2 separate regions of the Homo sapiens genome follow, and region 2 is linked to region 1. Evidence: fine-mapped expression QTL. A gene starts in region 1. The other region holds a variant in brackets. All regions are shown on one strand. Distances are between the middles of the regions.

What was found.
Region 2: its variant is fine-mapped to the expression of WNT8B in whole blood (TOPMed, PIP 0.97).

Annotation. Positions count from the first base shown.
Region 1 is chr10:100,456,001-100,466,105 of GRCh38, forward strand. It overlaps WNT8B (Wnt family member 8B), which reads left to right and starts at 7,009. Exons shown (of 6, transcript NM_003393.4): 1 at 7,009-7,236. The coding sequence starts at 7,169.
Region 2 is chr10:100,435,527-100,445,631 of GRCh38, forward strand. No RefSeq gene overlaps it. Among named protein-coding and RNA genes, the nearest start is that of WNT8B, 22 kb to the right of the region's middle. The variant G/A (reference allele first, on the strand shown) is at 5,068.

The DNA.
Region 1 (10,105 bases):
AAGTTGGAAAACATTCTTTAGGATATTATCCAGGAGAACTTCCCCTACCTAGCGAGGAAGGCCAACATTCAAATTCAGGAAATACAGAGAATGCCACAAAGATACTCCTTGAAAAGAGCAACTCCAAGACACATAATTGTCAGATTCACCAAAGTTGAAATGAAGGAAAAAATGTTAAGGGCAGCCAGAGAGAAAGGTCGGGTTACCCACAAAGGGAAGCCCATCAGTCTAACAGCGGATCTCTCGGCAGAAACTCTACAAGCCAGAAGAGAGTGGGGGCCAATATTCAACATTCTTAAAGAAAAGAATTTTCAACCCAGAAATTTCATATCCAGCCAAACTAAGCTTCATAAGTGAAGGAGAAATAAAATCCTTTACAGACAAGCAAATGCTGAGAGATTTTGTCCCCACCAGGCCTGCCTTACAAAAGCTCCTGAAGGAAGCACTAAACATGGAAAGGAACAACCAGTACCAGCCACTACAAAAACATGCCAAATTGTAAAGACCATCAGTGCTAGGAAGAAACTGCATCAACTAACGAGCAAAATAGCCAGCTAACTTCATAATGACAGGATCAAATTCACACATAACAATATTAACCTTAAACATAAATGGGCTAAATGCTCCAATTAAAAGACACAGACTGGCAAATTGAATAAAGAGTCAAGACCCATCAGTGTGCTATATTCAGGAGACCCATCTCACGTGTAGAGACACACATAGGCTCAAAATGAAGGGATGGAGGAAGATCTACCAAGCAAATGGAAAACAAAAAAAAAGCAGGGGTTGCAATCCTAGTCTCTGATAAAACAGACTTTAAACCAACAAAGATCAAAAGAGACAAAGAAGGCCATTACATAATGGTAAAGGGATCAATTCAACAAGAAGAGCTAACTATCCTAAATATATTTATATATATTGCACCCAATACAGAGCACCCAGATTCATAAAGCAAGTCCTTAGAGACCTACAAAGAGACTTAGACTCCCACACAATAATAATGGGAGATTTTAACACCCCACTGTCAACATTAGACAGATCAACGAGACAGAAAGTTAACAAGGATATCAAGGAATTGAACTCAGCTCCGCACCGAGCAGACCTCTCCACCCCAAATCAACAGAATAGACATTATACATTCTTCTCAGCACCACATCACACTTATTCCAAAATTGACCACATAGTTGGAAGTAAAGCACTCCTCAGCAAATGTAAAAGAACAGAAATTATAACAAACTGTCTCTCAGACCACAGTGCAATCAAACTAGAACTCAGGATTAAGAAACTCACTCAAAACCGCTCAACTACATGGAAACTGAACAACCTGCTTCTGAATGACTACTGGGTACATAACAAAATGAAGGCAGAAATAAAGGTGTTCTTTGAAACCAACGAGAACAAAGACACAACATACCAGAATCTCTGGGACACATTCAAAGCAGTGTGCAGAGGGAAATTTGTAGCACTAAATGCCCACAAGAGAAAGCAGGAAAGATCTAAAATTGACACCCTAACATCACAATTAAAAGAACTAGAGAAGCAAGAGCAAACACATTCAAAAGCTGGCAGAAGGCAAGAAATAACTAAGATCAGAGCAGAACTGAAGGAAATAGAGACACAAAAAACCCTTCAAAAAAATCAATGAATCCAGGAGCTGGTTTTTTGAAAAGATCAACAAAATTGATAGACCGCTAGCAAGACTAATAAAGAAGAAAAGAGAGAAGAATCAAATAGACGCAATAAAAAATGATAAACGGGATATCACTACCGATCCCACAGAAATACAAACTACCATCAGAGAATATTATAAATATCTCTACACAAATAAACTAGAAAATCTAGAAGAAATGGATAAATTCCTGGACACATACACCCTCCCAAGACTAAACCAGGAAGAAATTGAATCCCTGAATAGACCAATAACAGGTTCTGAAATTGAGACAATTAATAGCCTACCAACCAAAAAACAGTCCAGGACCAGACGGATTCACAGCCAAATTCTACCAGAGGTACAAAGAAGAGTTGGTACCATTCCTTCTGAAACTATTCCAATCAATAGAAAAAGAGGGAATCCTCCCTAATTCATTTTATGAGGCCAACATCATCCTGATACCAAAGCCTGGCAGAGACACAACAAAAAAAGAGAATTTTAGACCAATATCCCTGGTGAACACCGACGCAAAAATCCTCAATAAAATACTGGCAAACCGAATCCAGCACCACATCAAAAAGCTTATCCACCACGATCAAGTTGGCTTCATCCCTGGGATGCAAGGCTGGTTCAACATATGCAAATCAATAAATGTAATCCATCATATAAACAGAACCAAATACAAAAATCACATGATTATCTCAATAGATGCAGAAAAGGCCTTCAACAAAATTCAACAGCCCTTCATGCTAAAAACTCTCAATAAACTAGGTATTGATGGGACGTATCTCAAAATAATAAGAGCTATTTATGACACATCCACAGCCAATATCATACCGAATGGGCAAAAACTGGAAGCATTCCCTTTGAAAACTGGCATAAGACAGGGATGCCCTCTCTCACCACTCCTAGTCAACATAGTGTTGGAAGTTCTGGCCAGGGCAATCAGGCAAGAGAAAGAAATAAAGGGTATTCAATTAGGAAAAGAGGAAGTCAAATTGTCCCTGTTTGCAGATGACATGATTGTATATTTAGAAAACCCCATCGTCTCAGCCCAAAATCTCCTTAAGCTGGTAAGCAACTTCAGCAAAGTCTCAGGATACAAAATCAATGTGCGAAAATCACAAGCATTCCTATACGCCAATAACAGACAAACAGAGAGCCAAATCATGAGTGAACTCCCACTCACAATTGCTTCAAAGAGAATAAAATACCTAGGAACCCAACTTACAAGGGAAGTGAAGGACCTCTTCAAGGAGAACTACAAACCACTGCTCAACAAAACAAAAGAGGACACAAACAAATGGAAGAACATTCCATGCTCTTGGATAGGAAAAATCAATATCGTGAAAATGGCCATACTGCCCAAGGTAATTTATAGATTCAATGCCATCCCCATCAAACTACCAATGACTTTCTTCACAGAATTGGAAAAAACTACTTTAAAGTTCATATGGAACCAAAAAAGAGCCCGCATTGCCAAGACAATCCTAAGCCAAAAGAACAAAGCTGGAGCATCACGCTACCTGACTTCAAACTATACTACAAGGCTACAGTAACCAAAACAGCATGGTACTGGTACCAAAACAGAGATATAGACCAATGGAACAGAACAGAGGCCTCAGAAATAATGCCACATATCTACAACCATCTGATCTTTGACAAACCTGACAAAAACAAGAAATGGGGAAAGGATTCCCTATTTAAAAATGGTGCTAGGAAAACTGGCTAGCCATATGTAGAAAGCTGAAACTGGATCCCTTCCTTACACCTTATAAAAAAAGTTAATTCAAGATGGGTTAAAGACTTAAATGTTAGACCTAAAACCATAAAAACCCTAGAAGAAAACCTAGGCAATACCATTCAGGCCATAGGCATGGGCAAGGACTTCATGACTAAAACACCAAAAGCAATGGCAACAAAAGCCAAAATTGACAAATGGGATCTAATTAAACTAAAGAGCTTCTGCACAGCAAAAGAAACTACCATCAGAGTGAACAGGCAACCTACAGAATGAGAGAAAGATTTTACAGTCTACCCATCTGACAAAGGGCTAATATCCAGAATCTACAAAGAACTTAAACAAATTTACAAGAAAAAATCAAACAACCCCATCAAAAAGTGGGTAAAGGATATGAACAGGCACTTCTCTAAAGAAGACATTTATGCAGCCAACAGACACATGAAAAAACGCTCATCATCACTGGCCATCAGAGAAATGCAAATCAAAACCACAATGAGGTACCATCTCACACCAGTTAGAATGGCGATCATTAAAAAGTCAGGAAACAACAGGCATTGGAGAGGGTGTGGAGAAATAGGAACGCTTTTACACTGTTGGTGGGACTGTAAACTAGTTCGACCATTGTGGAAGACAGTGTGGTGATTCCTCAAGGATCTAGAACTAGAAATACCATTTGACCCAGCCATCCCATTACTGGGCATATACTCAAAAGATTATTCTGCTATAAAGACTATTCACAACAGCAAAGACTTGGAACCAACCCAAATGTCCATCAATGATAGACTGGATTAAGAAAATGTGGCACATATACACCATGGAATACTATGCAGTCATAAAAAAGGATTAGTTCATGTCCTCTATAGGGACATGGATAAAGCTAGAAACCATCATTCTGAGCAAACTATCGCAAGGACAGAAAACCAAACACCATGTGTTCTCACACATAGGTGGGAATTGAACAATGAGAACACTTGGACACAGCGTGGGGAACATCACACACCAGGGCCTGTTGTGGGGTTGGGGGAGGGGGGAGGGATAGCATTGGGAGATATACTTAATGTAAATGACGAGTTAACGGGTACAGCACACCAACATGGCACATGTATACATATGTAACAAACCTGCATGTTGTGCACATGTACCCTAGAACTTAAAGTATAATAAAAAAAATTTAAAATTAAAAAAATTTAAAAAAGAAAGTTGCATATTACTAAATGAGAAAAGCAATTTGCAAAATATAATTTATATAATCTCATTTTTGTGGAAAATGTTTATATACATATTTACATATGCATATAAAACCTCTTGAAAGACCATCTAAAACTTAACTGCTGTTATCCTAGAGGGGAGAAGGCAGGTCATCAAAGGGGATTTGCACTATTTATCTCTGTCATGTTTAAGTTTTTATTATAAGAATGTATTAATTTTGTGCAAAACAATAAAAGTAGGCCAGGCGTGGTGGCTCACGCCTGTAATCCCAGCACATTGGGAGACCAAGGCTGGATGATCTCGCCAAGCCAGGAGTATGAGACCAGCCTGGACAGAATAGCGAGACCCTGTCTCTAAAAATAAATAGATAGATAGATAGATAGATAGATAGATAGATAGATAGATAGATAGATAGACAGACAGACAGACAGACAGACAGACAGACAGACAGATAGATAAACAAACAATAAAAGTCTTAACTTTCTCCTTTGTGGAAGAAATTCTAAGGGGATAGGACAGTGCCTCAATGAACTCATTTTAAATTAGCTCTCCCTTTTTACACAAAAACTGCCCAAATCTGCTCTACCTCCCAATGAATTTTTGCATCCCTTAGGAGTTCTCTAGTCAAGTAAATGGCAAAAACTGTGGTCAGGGAAGAAGTCAAGGCTGAAATCCAGGAGTCATTGCTCCTTATCTTCCTAGAACCTGACTCTTGGCCTGAAATAGACTCTACTGCTCCCTTTCTGAATGAAGAGAGAGGAGGACCTAAAGTTGTTTGTGTAGGAGCCACAACTGACCAAGCTCATCTCACAATAAGGTTTGGAGCCCCAAATAAAGACTTGGTCTAGAAGATTCCATGTGGACAACAAAATTACACAGTTAAGATACTGAGGTGAAGACCCCCTAAATCGTCTGGCCTAGGTAATGGAGAAAGTGAATTTGTGTATTAATTCTTTATTTTCTGGTTCAGTCTAGCCAGAGAGGGTTTTGGAGCAAGAGGAACAAGGTTAAAAGAAAAGAACAAAGACCATTGTCTCAGGGAGACCTTAAGAAAGGTGATGCGGATGCTAAAGTAGAAGGTGTGAAAATAGTTAGAAAGAATGAAGAAGACCTAGTATTCAACAGCACAACAGGGTGACTATCGTCAATAATAATTTCATTGTACATGGTAACTAAGAGTATAATTAGACTGTTTGTAACACAAAGGATTAATGCTTGAGGTGATGGATACTCATTTACCCTGATGTGATTATCATGCATTCATTGTATGCCTGTATCAAAATATCTCATGTACATGTACTCCATAAATATATATACCTACTATGTATCCACAAAAGTTAACTGAAATTTTTTTTAAAAGATGGGGCTATATGGCTACATAGACATCAGTCTGGAGCCCTTTGAGGATCCCCAGTGCTGTGGCTGAGGCCACCCTCCTCCCTAGGGAACAGAAGGAGCAGAGTCCCAGAGAAGTGTGAGCGAGGGCCTGGGTGCCCTCCTGGCTCCGCCACCTGAGTTTAAGAAAGTAGGGATTTTGAGATCACCTTTGTGTGCCTATTGAAATCTCTTTCCTTCTTCGAAACTCAAATTCTACCTTCTTCAGAAAACCTCCCCTAAATAAGCCTACACTATTATAGGCAGTTTGTAGCTTTCTAATACTTTATTAAACTGCGTTATTTTATTGTCACCTTACTAGGCTGTAAATGTTGTTAGGGCAGAAATCATGTTTTGGTTTTTAAAAATTTCCACAATGCCTAGGGTGGTGTTGAGAATAAAATAGGCATTTGGTAAGTAATTGTGTGATGAAAAAGTTGAAAGGAAGAAAAAACCATCGGGCTTCCTGAAGTTTCTAGCCTTTCTAACTTAGACAGAGAATACACTAGATGGTAGGACTGCATCCCCACATTCTCAAATCAGAGGGTGGAGGTTCACCTGCACCTGGTGTATTTTTTTCTGAAAAAACAAAACAAACAAAAAAATGCTATCCTGAATGCAAATTCAGTCTCAAAGTGCTACAGAGGACAACCAGGAAAGCACAGTCCTTTCTGGATCCCTTTTGGGGACCAGGCTGTGTGTGTGTGTGTGTTGTGTGTGTGTGTGTGTGTGTAAGTGTGCATAGGTGGGAAAAGGTTGTGGTGTGATGGGAGGGGATAGGCAAGAGGGAGGAAAGAGACTCCATGCAGTGATTATGTGGAGGGGATTTGCTATGTCTCTTCCCCCCGCTTCTTTCTTTGTCCTCTTTCTCCTGGTCCCCTTCTTCTGCATTTGTCTGGGAGGATCCTGGAGTGTTCTTTTGATCGACTCAATCTTTCTCTGGCACTTGAGTTCTGATTGGCTGAAGGACTTAGAGGGGAAAAAAAACTTTAATTAAGTAGATAATCTCTTCTTTGGACGTTTGGCAGCTCCATTTCACCTCCCCTTAACTCTGTTTGGGATCGCTTACACACCAAGGAAGTTGGGCTTTGAGAATTCCATCCCACTGGCACTGAGGAGAATATTTCTCCGTCTTGCTTACCCATCTCCCAGTTTTTTGGAATTTTCTCTAGCTGTTACTCCAGAGGATTATGTTTCTTTCAAAGCCTTCTGTGTACATCTGTCTTTTCACCTGTGTCCTCCAACTCAGCCACAGCTGGTAAGTAACCTGGACTCTTACCTGGAGCTGGGAATAGGTAAGTGTATGTAATGTGTTGGGTAAAGCTCATTTCATTTCCAGAAATGTAGGAAGCCTTGATAGCTCTCCTAGGAAAAACTGTTCTATGGGGTAGGGCTCTTCCTAAATTTATGGCTGATTTTAGTGAATCTTTAGGACCCCTACCAATAAAGGACTAAATGATGGGAGCGGGGGTTCCTATTTTTATAAATTGCTATTCCACAAATATTCCCCCAAAGTGATTTGGGGGTAAATGGACAGCAGCCCTTTTCACGAAATCCTGATGTCAGCATTGTAGAGAGGAGGAAGGTAGTTCAAAGCAAGTTCTACCGTGTGTTGAATCTGATCTTGAGGTAAAGTCTGGAGACAAAATTCAATGGGATCTTACTTTGTACTTTCTGACTTTATTTTTTTTTTCAGGATATTCTAAGTAATTGCTCAAATTATCATTTCCTAGACATAAAAAATTTTATTTGAACCACTAAGCAGGCATTGGGTTAACAAACATGTTTGAAACCAGATATTTTAGAAATCTAAACGTCTCGAGAAATTTATTTAATTTGTTCAATTTACAAATATTTCTAAATTGTTCAGAAAATCAGATAACGTATATGAAAGTGCTTTGTAAATTATAAACACAAATGCTAAAGAATATCATCACCATTCTCATTTAGCTCTTGGAAACCACATAAACTATCTATACATGCAACTGTTCATTAGCAAATACACCAGTACACAATAACATACAGAATGCAGGTTGCTAGGGTGTTCGGAGTTTCTCTCCAGTTCAGATATGAGCTCAGTCTCTCTCTTCATCAGCTCTCATTTTGACCATCTATTTAACAAAGATATAAATCCAATTGCTACATAAACTGTTGAGGAAGCAGGAAAAGAAATTTCTTTGCTGAGATAAGCTTCCTTTGAGAATTGAAAATACATTTTTATCATAAATGAGTGTAGCCGTCTTTATAGGAGTGTTGATAGGAAGTATGCCAACTTCATAAAACTATTTGCAAGTTAATACAATAATTTGCAACATTTCTGATTATAAGCAGAACCACCAATTAGTCCATTTTTAATTGGCATTTTAATTAAATATTTCAATGTTAAAAAAAAGGTCTCTCTTCTCTCCCCCTCATGAGAACAAAAAGACAAAAGGGAGAGGAGACTATTTCAGAGCATTTCTACTGATGTTCATGGTATTCTTCAGCTGATTCAGTATCAGCAAAAGAGAAACACGAGATTCCCTTCCCTAGTCACCAGGGCGGTGTGAAGAATTGTTCTATAAAAAATACCTTTACTGTGTGTTCCCTTCCCTGCTGGAGGGGGTCATGTTCATTTCATTCCGATACTGACACAGCCACACTGAAAGGTGGCTGGGTTGCTTGTCTGTCCAAATTCAAGTGTCTGGATTCAAAAAGAAAAAAGGAAAAAGAGATGTGAAAGAAAGTTCTAATTTAAGAAAACAGGGTTTAAGAGCCCTTCTCGCCTTGCCTGACTTTGAGGAGAAAATGTACAAATCTCCTTTATAATACAATTAGATTTTAATTGCTTTTTCCTATAAGCCCCAATTTAAATTAAACATTTGTACTTCACCAAGAATCTGTTTGTGGTGGCATTTGAAAAGTGATTTTTAAATTTAACATTAAACGTTGATTATGCTTCTAATGAAACTATCACGGTTTTGCATAAGGTCATCTTCCCCTTTATGCCATGCAGAGAAATTTGACCAACCACAGCCTTTGAAATGTTTCTCTTAATACTTCATTATCAACCTTTTATGTAAGGACCTCAAAAGCATTTAACAAATAGAGAACCACAATTTCTGCTTGGCTGTTCAATTGTAGGCCTGCCTGAAATTACTATCTAAAAGAGTCCATCAGCAGAAATTCCTGGGCTTGAAAAGGAGAGAATAATGATGACATTCACCTATAATATGCAGTTTTACTAGGTAAATCAGTACAAGATGATTTCTTTGAAAAGTATTTGCCACAGTTTTTTATAGTTGGGACACTTCCAAGGAGAACTGTCTTTTAGTAACTTGAGAAAATTATTTTCTTTGAATTTGTTTGTCTTAATCCTTATGGCTCCAAAGATAGAGAATGAGAATGCATGATAAGCCAAGCAGATGATGATGATTATAATGGTGGCCAGAGATGAACCAATTTGATTTTCCTTCCAATGCACTTACTCATCTGGAATGAGCAGGCCTAGAAAGTGTTTTACCTTAACTGGTTGGCCCCATTTTACTCCAAATGATATGTCATAATGACAGTGGGTCTTACCCAGTTCTGTTCATTTCTCACTCTCTCCCCACCTAACTCAGTCACCAAATCAGAAGGATGCCCTGGGATACAGAAGTAAACTATAGCTCTGCTCTCATTCTTCAACAGAAGTCACCGCCTCTACTTCTTTCCAAAGGTCTGCAGCAGGAATTTAAACAGGGTCCATTTCTCTTCTGCAGTAGGGCAAGAATTTACCTAAAATCATTGGATTTTATGGCAGCTTTTGAAAAACATCATCTTTTGGTCCTCTACATGCATCTCATAGAGTAACCTTTCTATGGCTCTTGAAATCTCATCTGATGATGACATGTGGGACTCCTGATTGGCAAAGGAATCAGTTATTGGAGGAAGGTCTTTGAATCCATATTCTCACCAAGCATTGCATAAAGCTGAAATTATTGATCTCCACACTATGTTCTACTACTTTTAGGTGTATTTTATGAACAATAAAATACAAACTCACTTAAAAATTACTGAATTCATACTGGGGTTCTGTCATAAGTTTTTGCCATGTTGAATTTTTCCCACTAACAGATTAAAAAAAACCATATATGATCAAGTGAAGA
Region 2 (10,105 bases), 20 kb before region 1:
GATGGTGCCCAATATATTGTTGTATGTTGGAAAATATATACATGGAAAAAGAAAATTGCAAGAAAATGCAGACAGCAAAGTGATAGAAAAGTACATAAACAGCAAAAGAATAGAAAAGTATTTGGAAGGAAATATACTCAACTCTTTTTTTTTTTTTTTTTTTTTTTTTTTGAGACGGAGTCTCACTCTGTCACCAGGCTGGAGTACAGTGGCACCATCTTGGCTCACTGCAACCTTCACCTCCCGAGTTCAAGCGATTGTCTTGCCTCAGCCTCCCAAGTAGCTGGGACTACATGTGCGCACCACCATGCCTGGCTAATTTTTGTATTTTTAGTAGAGACGGGGTTTTGCCATGTTAGCCAGATTGGTCTTGAACTCCTGACCTCAGGTGATCCGCCTGCCTCAGCCTCCTAAAGTGCTGGGATTATAGGCGTGAGCCACTGCTCCCGGCCGAAATATACTCAACTCTTAACAGTAAATACCTCTGGAGAATGGAACTGGGAAAAGAACAGCATTCCATTTTTATTTTACATGCCTCTGATTTTTTTTTAAACAACTAGAATATATTATTTTTTCTCTTCTCCCCACCAAATCAAATACAGATATTAGATAGATGGCAATGATGAAGGCACAGTTGTTTAATCTCTCCAAATTCCCATATCAAAACTGGGAGAGCAACTAGATAACAAACCCAAAATCCCTGGACCACATTTTGCAAAACTAGGTGACAAGGTATCCCTAGGAATCCCATATGCAAGCAGGTGAAACTCAATACCCACAAGCTCTGGACCATTTCAGCATCTGCATGGGAAAAGCAAAGGAAGCAACAGGACAGCTGACAGACCCCCAACTGGAGAACTCCAAAAGAGCCAACGGGAAAGTGAGGTGGGTCAATCTGAAAACAAGAGGTAGAACTGGAGGAGTTTGGCCTAATCCTATTAGTGGGTGAGTGCGTGTGGGGCCCATGAGTCTGGCTAGAGCAATCCAGCCCCTAGAAACCCATGAAACTGACCAACCAGGGCCCCATTTCAGGACATGGCCACACACTGAAGAAAAACGTCCAGATGTAGAGTCAAAATTAAGCAGGACTGGGATAAAAAAAGGCCAATAAAAGAGGTGTTCAGATTAGGCGGGGGAGGAAAGCAACAATATCAGAGTCACAGAAAGCAAGCCATCATATTTTTAAACACTACACTCCTATTTCCTAAAATTTCAGGAAGCCAACCTCATAGAAATAAGCAACAGAAAAGTATCAAGATTAAATCTAATAAAAGTTATTATGAGGAAAAGGAGAATAAGAGGCAGAATAGTTTCTACAGGCAATGAAAGCATATTAGAAACAGAGTAAAACTCTACAATTTCTTGCTTTGAAACCAACTGGAAAACCCTTTTTAAATGATATAAGACATAAAAGAATAGTAAAAACCAGAAACAGACAAACGCAGAAATAAAGTGACAGAACTCAGGAAATAATTAGAAAGAAAATAATTTCAAAAATAAAGACAAACTATCAGAAACACCACAGTGAATAGGCACAACAAATAATGCCTTAAGAAAAATAGGAGGTGAAGGCCGGGCGCTGTGGCTCACACCTGTAATCCCAGCACTTTGGGAGGCCTAGGCGGGTGGATCACCTGAGGTCAAGAGTTTGAGACCAGCCTGGCCAACATGGTGAAATCCTGTCCTTACTAAAAATACAAAAATTTGCTGGGCATGGTGGCACGTGCCTGTAATCCCAGCTACTTGGGAAGCTGAAGCGGGAGAATCACTTGAACCCAGGAGGCGGAGGTTGCAGTGAGCCGAGATTGTACTCCAGCCTGGGTGACAAGAGTGAAACTCTGTCTCAAAAAAAAAAAGAGAGAAATAGAAGGCAAAAAACAGGGAACATTTAAAAAACAAAAAAGAGCTGGGTATGGTGGCTTACACCTGTAATCCCAGCATTTTGGGAGGCTGAGGCGGGAGAATCACTTGAGCACAGGAGTTCGAGACCAGCCTGGGCAACATAGGGAGACCACATCTCTCTCAAAAAAAAAAAAAAAAAAAAAAAAAAAAAATATATATATATATATATATATATATATATATATATATGTATATTAACTGAGCATGATGGCATGTGCCTGTAGTCTGAGCCACTTGGGGGGCTGGGGTGAGAGGATCACCTGAGCCCAAGGAGATCAAAGCTTCAGTGAGCTATGGTTGTGCCGCTGCACTTCAGCCTGGGAGATAGAGCAAGACCTGTCTCAAAAAAAGTAAATAAATAAATAGAAAATAACCCAAAAAGAAATAGATTAAAGGGAAAGTGGCAAATATTGAAGATAAAATAAGAACAGCCAACGTATGGACAATGAAAGATCTTTAATCTCATTGCTGGGAGAGGTCCCGACTATCTTTCATGCATAACAGTTTAAGAATTTTAACTTTTTTCTTTTTTTTCTTTTAGACAGAATCTCGCTCTGTCGCCCAGAATCAAGTGATTCTCCTGCCTCAGCCTCCCGAGTAGCTGGGACTACAGGCGCATGCTACCACACCCAGCTAATGTTTTATTTTTAGTAGAGACAGAGTTTCACCATGTTGGCCAGGCTGGTCTGGAACTCCTGACCTCAGGTGATCCGCCCACTTCGGCCTCCCAGAGTGCTGGGATTACAGGTGTGAGCCAGCGCACCCGGCCAACTTTTTATTTTTATAAGACAGTTTCACTCTGTCACCCAGGCTGGAGTGCAGTGGCTCAGCCTTGGTTCACTGCAACCTCCATCTCCTGGGTTCAAGCAATTCTCCTGCCTCAGCCTCCTGAGTAGCTGGGATTACAGGCACCCGCCACCATGCCCGGCTAATTTTTGTATTTTTAGTAAATACGGGATTTTACCATGTTGGTCAGGCTGGTCTTGAACTGCTGGCCTCAAATGATCCACCCGCCTTGGCCTCCCAAAGTGCTGGGATTATAGGTGTGAGCCACCACATCTGGCCTAATTTTAGCTTTTTATTTTCACCTACACTAAAAAAAGTTTAAAAATTTATTCAATGGTCTGAAGTTTTTTCACTGATTAAAACTCAAACCCCCATTTTCTAGAAAAGTATCCTGTAGCTAGTTGCAAAAATAAACGTGCAAGATGCAGAGAATAATATGCATCAGGATCATCCTCTATATCTTGGGGCTGATTGAGATTTTATGGGTCCTGAAGCTTATACAATTTAAGGAACACTCTTTAAGAAAAAGAATACAAAAATATCTTTAATTCCTAGCTGGGTTTTATTGGGCTCCCCTATGTCAGATACATAATCGACCATTGGAAAGTCATGATCACAGCTGTCAGAACACTCAGGGATATAATAATGTGTCAAAGTGTATGTAAAGCAGGAAGAGTCAGCAGCTATAAATACTCTCTCACAGTAGCAATCAGGAGAAACTAATAAAGAGAACGAAGAAGAAAATAGCGATTGGCACCCCACCATGCCAGTCTTCCCAGCTTCATCCCCAGATCTCTTTACCTGCCTCACCGCCGCAATCTCCATCTTCACCCCCTAACTGCACCCCTCCCTTCCTCTGTGCTCTCACTGTACAGCCAATTGCCTGTTTACTCCATGGAATCACCTTGAGGATAAGAATTGTGTACTGTTGACTGTTGTCTCTCCAGAGCCTAACAGTTCCTAAGCACGTAACAGGTGCTCAATAACTATTCATAGAATGTAATGAGATCTTCTGGTACCTCAGCTCCTTACTTTTACATTTGCTGTGCTTTCAGCATAGCTTTTCTGGAGTGTGCTATAATTCAGGAAAAGAAAATATCCTTCCTTTCTGAAATTTTTTTTTTTTAATTTTTTTGTAGAGATGAGGTCTTACTATGTTTCCCAGGCTGGTCTGAAACTCCTGGGCTCAAGCGATCAAGTGATCCTCCCACCTCAGGAGTGCTGGGATTCCAGGCCTAAGCCACCATGCCCAGCCAAAAACATCCTTTCTCATCTCTTGCTTTGTCGCCCAGGCTGGAGTACAGTGTTGCGATCTCGGCTCACTGCAACCTCTGCCTCCCAGGTTCAAGCAATTCTCCTGTCTCAGCCTCCTGAGAAGCTGAGATTACAGGCACACACCACCATGCCCAGCTAATTTTTGTATTTTTAGTAGAGATGGGGTTTCACCATATTGGTCAGACTGGTCTCGAACTCCTGACCTCAAGTGATCCACCCACCTCAGCCTCCCAAAGTGCTGGGATTACAGGCATAAGTCACTGTACCCAGCCAGGAGAATACTTTTGTAACCTGCATAATAGTATCTAATAAGTTTTTGCTCAACCCAAGATTTCATATAAGAAAAAAAACCCAATAACTTAAAATTCCTCAAAATTATGAGCTTTTGCTCTTTGAAGTTTGTTAAGAAAAGAAAAAAGACAAGCAACAGACTGGGAGAATACAGAAATAACTCAATATCCACAAGTAGTGTACCATTTCAGCATCTGCATGGGAAAAATCAAAGGAAGCAACAGGACAGCTGACAGACCCCTAAAGGGGTCTTGTATCTGATAAAGGACTTGTATCCAGAATATAGAGAGAGCTCTCAAAATTCAGTAATAATAAAACAAACAACCCAATTTTTAAAATGGGGAAACTATTTGAATAGAAAACTCACCCAAGAAGATATATGGATAGCAGCCAGGCACGGTGGCTCAAGCCTGTAATCCCAGCACTTTGGGAGGCTGAGGCGGGAGGATCTCGAGGTCAGGAGACGAAGACCATTCTGGCTAACACGGTGAAACCCCATCTCTACTGGAAAAAAAAAAAAAAAATTAGCTGGGCATGGTGGCAGGTGCCTGTAGTCTCAGCTACTCAGGAGGCTGAGGCAGGAGAATGGCGTGAACCCGGGAGGCGGAGCTTGCAGTGAGCCGAGATCACGCCACTGCACTCCAGCCTGGGCGACAGAGCAACACTCCGTCTCAAAAAAAAAAAAAAAGAAAGATATATGGATAGCAAATAAGCACAGAAAAAGATGTTCAACCTCATTAGCCAGTAGAGAAATGCAAATTAAAACCTCAGTGATACTACTACACACTTACAAGAGCCATAATCCAGATGAGT[G/A]TTTTGGCAAGAATGGGAAGCAACCAGAACTTTCTTCCTTTCTTTTTTTTACAGAAAGCGTCTTACTATGTTGCCCAGGCTGTTTCAAACTCCTGGGCTTGCGTGGACACGGTGGCTCACGCCTGTAACTCCAACACTTCGGGAGATTGAGGCAGGTGAATCTGAGATCAGGAGTTCGAGACCAACCTGGCCAACAAGGTGAAAGCCCGTCTCTATTAAAAATACAAAAAATTACTTGGGTGTGGTGGTACACGCCTGTAGTCCCAGCTACTCAGGAGGCTGAGGCAAGAGCATCACTTGAGCCAGGAGGTGGAGGTTGCAGTAAGCTGAGATCACACCACTGCACTCCAGCCTAGGCGACAGAGCGAGACTCCATCTAAAAGAAAAACCAAACAAACAACAACAACAAAAAAACCCATTTTGGAAAAGTTTGGCAGCTTCTTAAAATGTTAAGCATACACCTACTATAAACCCAGCCATTCCATTTCTAAGTATTTATCCCAAATAAATGAAGACATAGATCCATTAAACACTTGTACTAAATGTTCACAGCAGTTTTATTTATTTTCATTATTTTTAAATTTTTAAAATAGAGATGGGGGGTCTCACTATAATCCCTGCTCTTTGGGAGGCCAAGGTGGGGAGATAAGCTGATGTCAGGAGTTCGAGACCAGCCTGGCCAATATAGTGAAACCCTGTCTCTACTAAAAATACAAAAATTAGCTGGGCATGGTGGCGCATGCCTGTAATCCCAGCTGTTCTGGAGGCTGGTGTAGGAGAATCACTTGAACCCAGGAGGAGGAGGTTACAGTGAGCCGAGATTGTGCCATTGCACTCCAGCCTGGATGAGAGTGAGACTCCATCTCAAAAAATAAAATAAAATGAAATAAAATTTTAGAAAACGCAATGAAATCTTTCCCCTGGACTACCACACTAGCTTCCTAAATGGTTCTCTCTGCTTTTCTTTTTTTTTGAAATGGAGTCTCACTCTGTCACCGCGGCTGGAGTGCAGTAGTGAGGCCTTGGCTCACTGCAACCTCTGCCTGCTGGGTTCAGGTGATTCTCCTGCCTCAGCCTCCCGAGCAGCTGGGATTACAGGCACGCACCACCACACCTGGCTAATTTTTGTATTTATATTACAGACAGGGTTTCACCATGTCGGCCAGGCTGGTCTTGAACTCCTGACCTCAAGTGATCCACCGGCCTTGGCCTCCCAAAGTGCTGGGATTACAGGTGTGAGACACCGTGCCCAGCCTCTCTGTTTCTTTTCTATCACTCCTCTAATCCACTCTTCACGCAGCATCCAGGATATTTTTTTCTAAAATATAAAGCATATCATGATGTGATGCTCTTCTGCTTAAAACCCTCCTATGGCTTCCAATTGCTCTTAGAATACAATCCAAATATATGGTAGAGGCCAGGAGCGGTGGCTCATGTCTGTAATCCCAGCACTTTGGGAGGCCGAGGCAGGCAGATCATCTGAGGTCAGGAGTTCGAGACCAGCCTGGCCAACATGGCGAAACCCCGTCTCTACTAAAAAAAAATACAGGCCAGGTATAGCGGGTCATGCCTGTAATCCCAGCACTTTGGGAGGCTGAGGTGGGCAGATCATGAGGTCAGGAGATCGAGACCATCCTGGCCAACATGGTGAAACCCCATCTCTACTAAAATACAAAAAAAAATTAGCCGGTGTAGTGGTGCATGCCTGTAATCCCAGCTACTCAGGAGGCTGAGGCAGGAGAATCGCTTGAACCTGGGAGGCGGAAGTTGCAGTGAGCCGAGATCACGCCGCTGCACTCCAGCCTGGGCTACACAGCGAGACTCTGTCTCAAAAAAAAAAAAAAAAAAAAATTCGCTGAGCGTGGTGGCGGGCACCTGTAATTCCAGCTACTTGGGAGGCCAAGGCAGGAGCATCACTTGAACCCAGGAGGCAGAGGTTGCAGTAAGCCGAGATCATGCCACTGCACTCCAGCCTCGGTGTCAGAGCAAGACTCTATCTCAATAAACAAACAAACAAACAAACAAACATCTAGTAGACACTTCCTGATCTAGCTTATTCTACCTCTCTGACCTTATCTCCAGCTACCCTCCCCTCTTTGCTTACCATATTCAGCCATACAGATCTTTTGGCTCCAAAAACCTGCCTAACTTGCTCCTGCCTCTAGACCTTTGTGTTTACTGTTCTTTCACTTGGAATGTTCTTCCTCGGAACTATGCCTAATGCGCCTTCCTATCTTTCAGGCCTCCCCTCATGTATCACTTCTTCAGAAATGACTTCTGTGACCACATCTGAGGTAGGCCTGTAGTCAGTCCCTATTCATTATAATTTCATAGCATATATTATCTGAAGTTATTTTGCCATTTGTTCATTATTTCCCTCTCCCAACCACCACCTTCAAGACAACAATAATTAGTTTCTTTCTTCTTCACAGCTGTATCCTCAGTGCATACAGCAGTGTCTAGCACACCACAGACACTCACATGTTTGTTGAATGAATGAATGGGTGACCTTCAAGCAGTCTGGAAAGAGAGCAGCCAGTTCTCTACTTAAATGTTTTCAGAAAAGATTCCACCATTTTTCTGACAATAAAAATGAAGTCCAGTGTCCAATAATATTTAGTTGTCAGAATGGTTCTCCTAATATCCAACCTAATCCTTCCCAAAGCAATTTCTGTCCTGTCTCTTCTCATTTGTCTGGTGCTCAATGGAATAATTAAATTAGCTTACCATGGTCAATAATAAATGTACCAGGCCTTCTCAACAATAATTCTACTTCTCATCATATCTCACATTGCTGTTCTCTCTGGTCCTTGTCAAAAGTTCTCGGTCTCAAGTTTCATCTGTGAAGCCCAGTATTCAACCCAAATATTACTGCTTGAAATAGCCTACATAAGAAAAACTCAACGTATAAGTACCTACTTAAAAAGAGCAGTCCTACATCACCTACCTCTTATTAAATTTCTTTATCTGGCCAGGCACAGTGGCTCACACCTGTAATCCCAGCACTTTGGGAGGCTGAGGCAGGAGAATCGCTTGAACCCAGGAGGCACAGGTTGCAGTGAGCTGAGATCGCACCACTGCACTCCAGCCTGGGCGGCAGAGTGAGACTCCATTTCAAAAATAAAAAACAAAAAAAACTATTTATCTGTAGATTCTACATGTGTTTTCATAATGGCCTTTTGTGAAAATGCTTGGACCTTCTCAAGAACCTGCAGGTTCAAATGAGAAGAAGTTTTGAAACATCTTAAAGGTTGTAGCTCCTAGAAAAGCTACCCAACATTGCTGGCCCACCTGTGGTTTCACCACTCCACGCAAAGCGGGGTATAGGTACAGGGTCTGAAATTCCAGTGAATTTCAACCTTCCAGAAGAAGGTTGAATGAATAACCATTAAAAGCACTCTTCTTTTTTCTTGAGACGGAGTCTCACTCTTCACCCAGGCTGGAGTGCAGTGGCACGATCTCGGCTTACTGCAACCTCCACCTCCCAGGTTCAAGTGATTCTCGTGTCTCAGCCTCCCAAATAGCTGGGATTACAGGTGCATGCCACCACACCGGGCTAATTTTTGTATTTTTAGTAGAGATGGGGTTTTACCAGGTTGGTCAGGTTGGTCTCGAACTCCTGGCTTCAATCGATCCACCCACCTCAGCCTCTCAAACTGCTGGGATTATAGGCGTGAGCCACCGCACCTGGCCAAAAGCGTACTTTAGTGAGAAGTTATTAAGACTAAAAAAGTGGGCTTTGGGCTGGCTGCAGTGGCTCATGCCTGTAATCCAACCACTTTAGGAGGCCAGGAGGGAGATCACTAGAGCCCAGGAGTTTGAGACCAGCCTGGGCAACACAGGGAGATCCCCCTGCCATGGTCTCTACCTAAAAACTACAAAAATTAGTGGGGTGTGGTGGTGCATGCCTGTAATCCCAGCTACTTGGGAGGCTGAGGTGGGAGGGTTGCTTGCACCCTGGAGGTCAAGGCTGCAGTGAGCCAAGGTCGCACCACTGCACCCCAGCCTGGGCAACAGAGTGAAACTCTGTCTCAAAAAAAAAAAAAGTGGGCTTTAGGGGTAAATCTTAAAGTTGAGATGGGGAAAAAGTAAACAGAACTGAGGATCCTATAGACTGCACTAGCCAAAGTTATGATGATACCTCAGTTTTGTTAAACAGTATAGCACTATTGTTAGAATAAGCACTGGAGTCAGGCACACCTAGGTTCAAATCCTACTTCTGCCACTTACCTACTGTGTAAATCTGGGCACCTTACCTTGCTTCTCTAAACCTTGGTTGCTTCACTCATAAATGAGGGCAATGATATTGCATCCCTCATAGAGTCGTGAGATTAAATGACTTCATTCATGTAAACCCCTTTTTAGGGTTGTAGGAATTGCTCAATACATTTATTTGAGTTACTACTATGAATTCCTTTTTTTTTTTTTTTTTTTTTTTGAGATGGAGTTTCACTCTTGTTGCCCAGGCTGGAGTGCAATGGCGCGATCTCGGCTCACTGCAACCTCCACCTCCCGGGTTCAAGCAATTCTCCTGCCTCAGCCTCCCAAGTATCTGGGATTACAGGCATGCACCACCACACCCACCTAATTTTGCATTTTTTTAGCAGAGATGGGGTATATTATAAACAACTATAAGCCAATGTATATGAAAACTTTCATCAAATGAACCATCTTCCAGGAAAAAATACAATTTACCAAGACTGACTCAAGAAGAAAGAAAAACCCTTAATAATCCTATAACAAGGCATTAAAGCAATAGCTAAAAATCAAGTCCAGGTGGTTTCACCAGTGAGTTCTCACATACATTCAAGGGCCAAATGATTCCAACTTGTGCAAATCAATTCAGAGTACAGAAAAGGATAAATCACTCCCAATTAATTTTGTGAAACTGGCAGAATTCTTATAAAACTTGACAAAAACTTTATGAATAAGGAAAATTATAGGTCATAGTCACTCAGTAATATAGATGCAAAATCCTAATAAAGTGTTAGAAAACTAAATTTAATAATGTTCAAAACTGACAATACTTTATGACCAA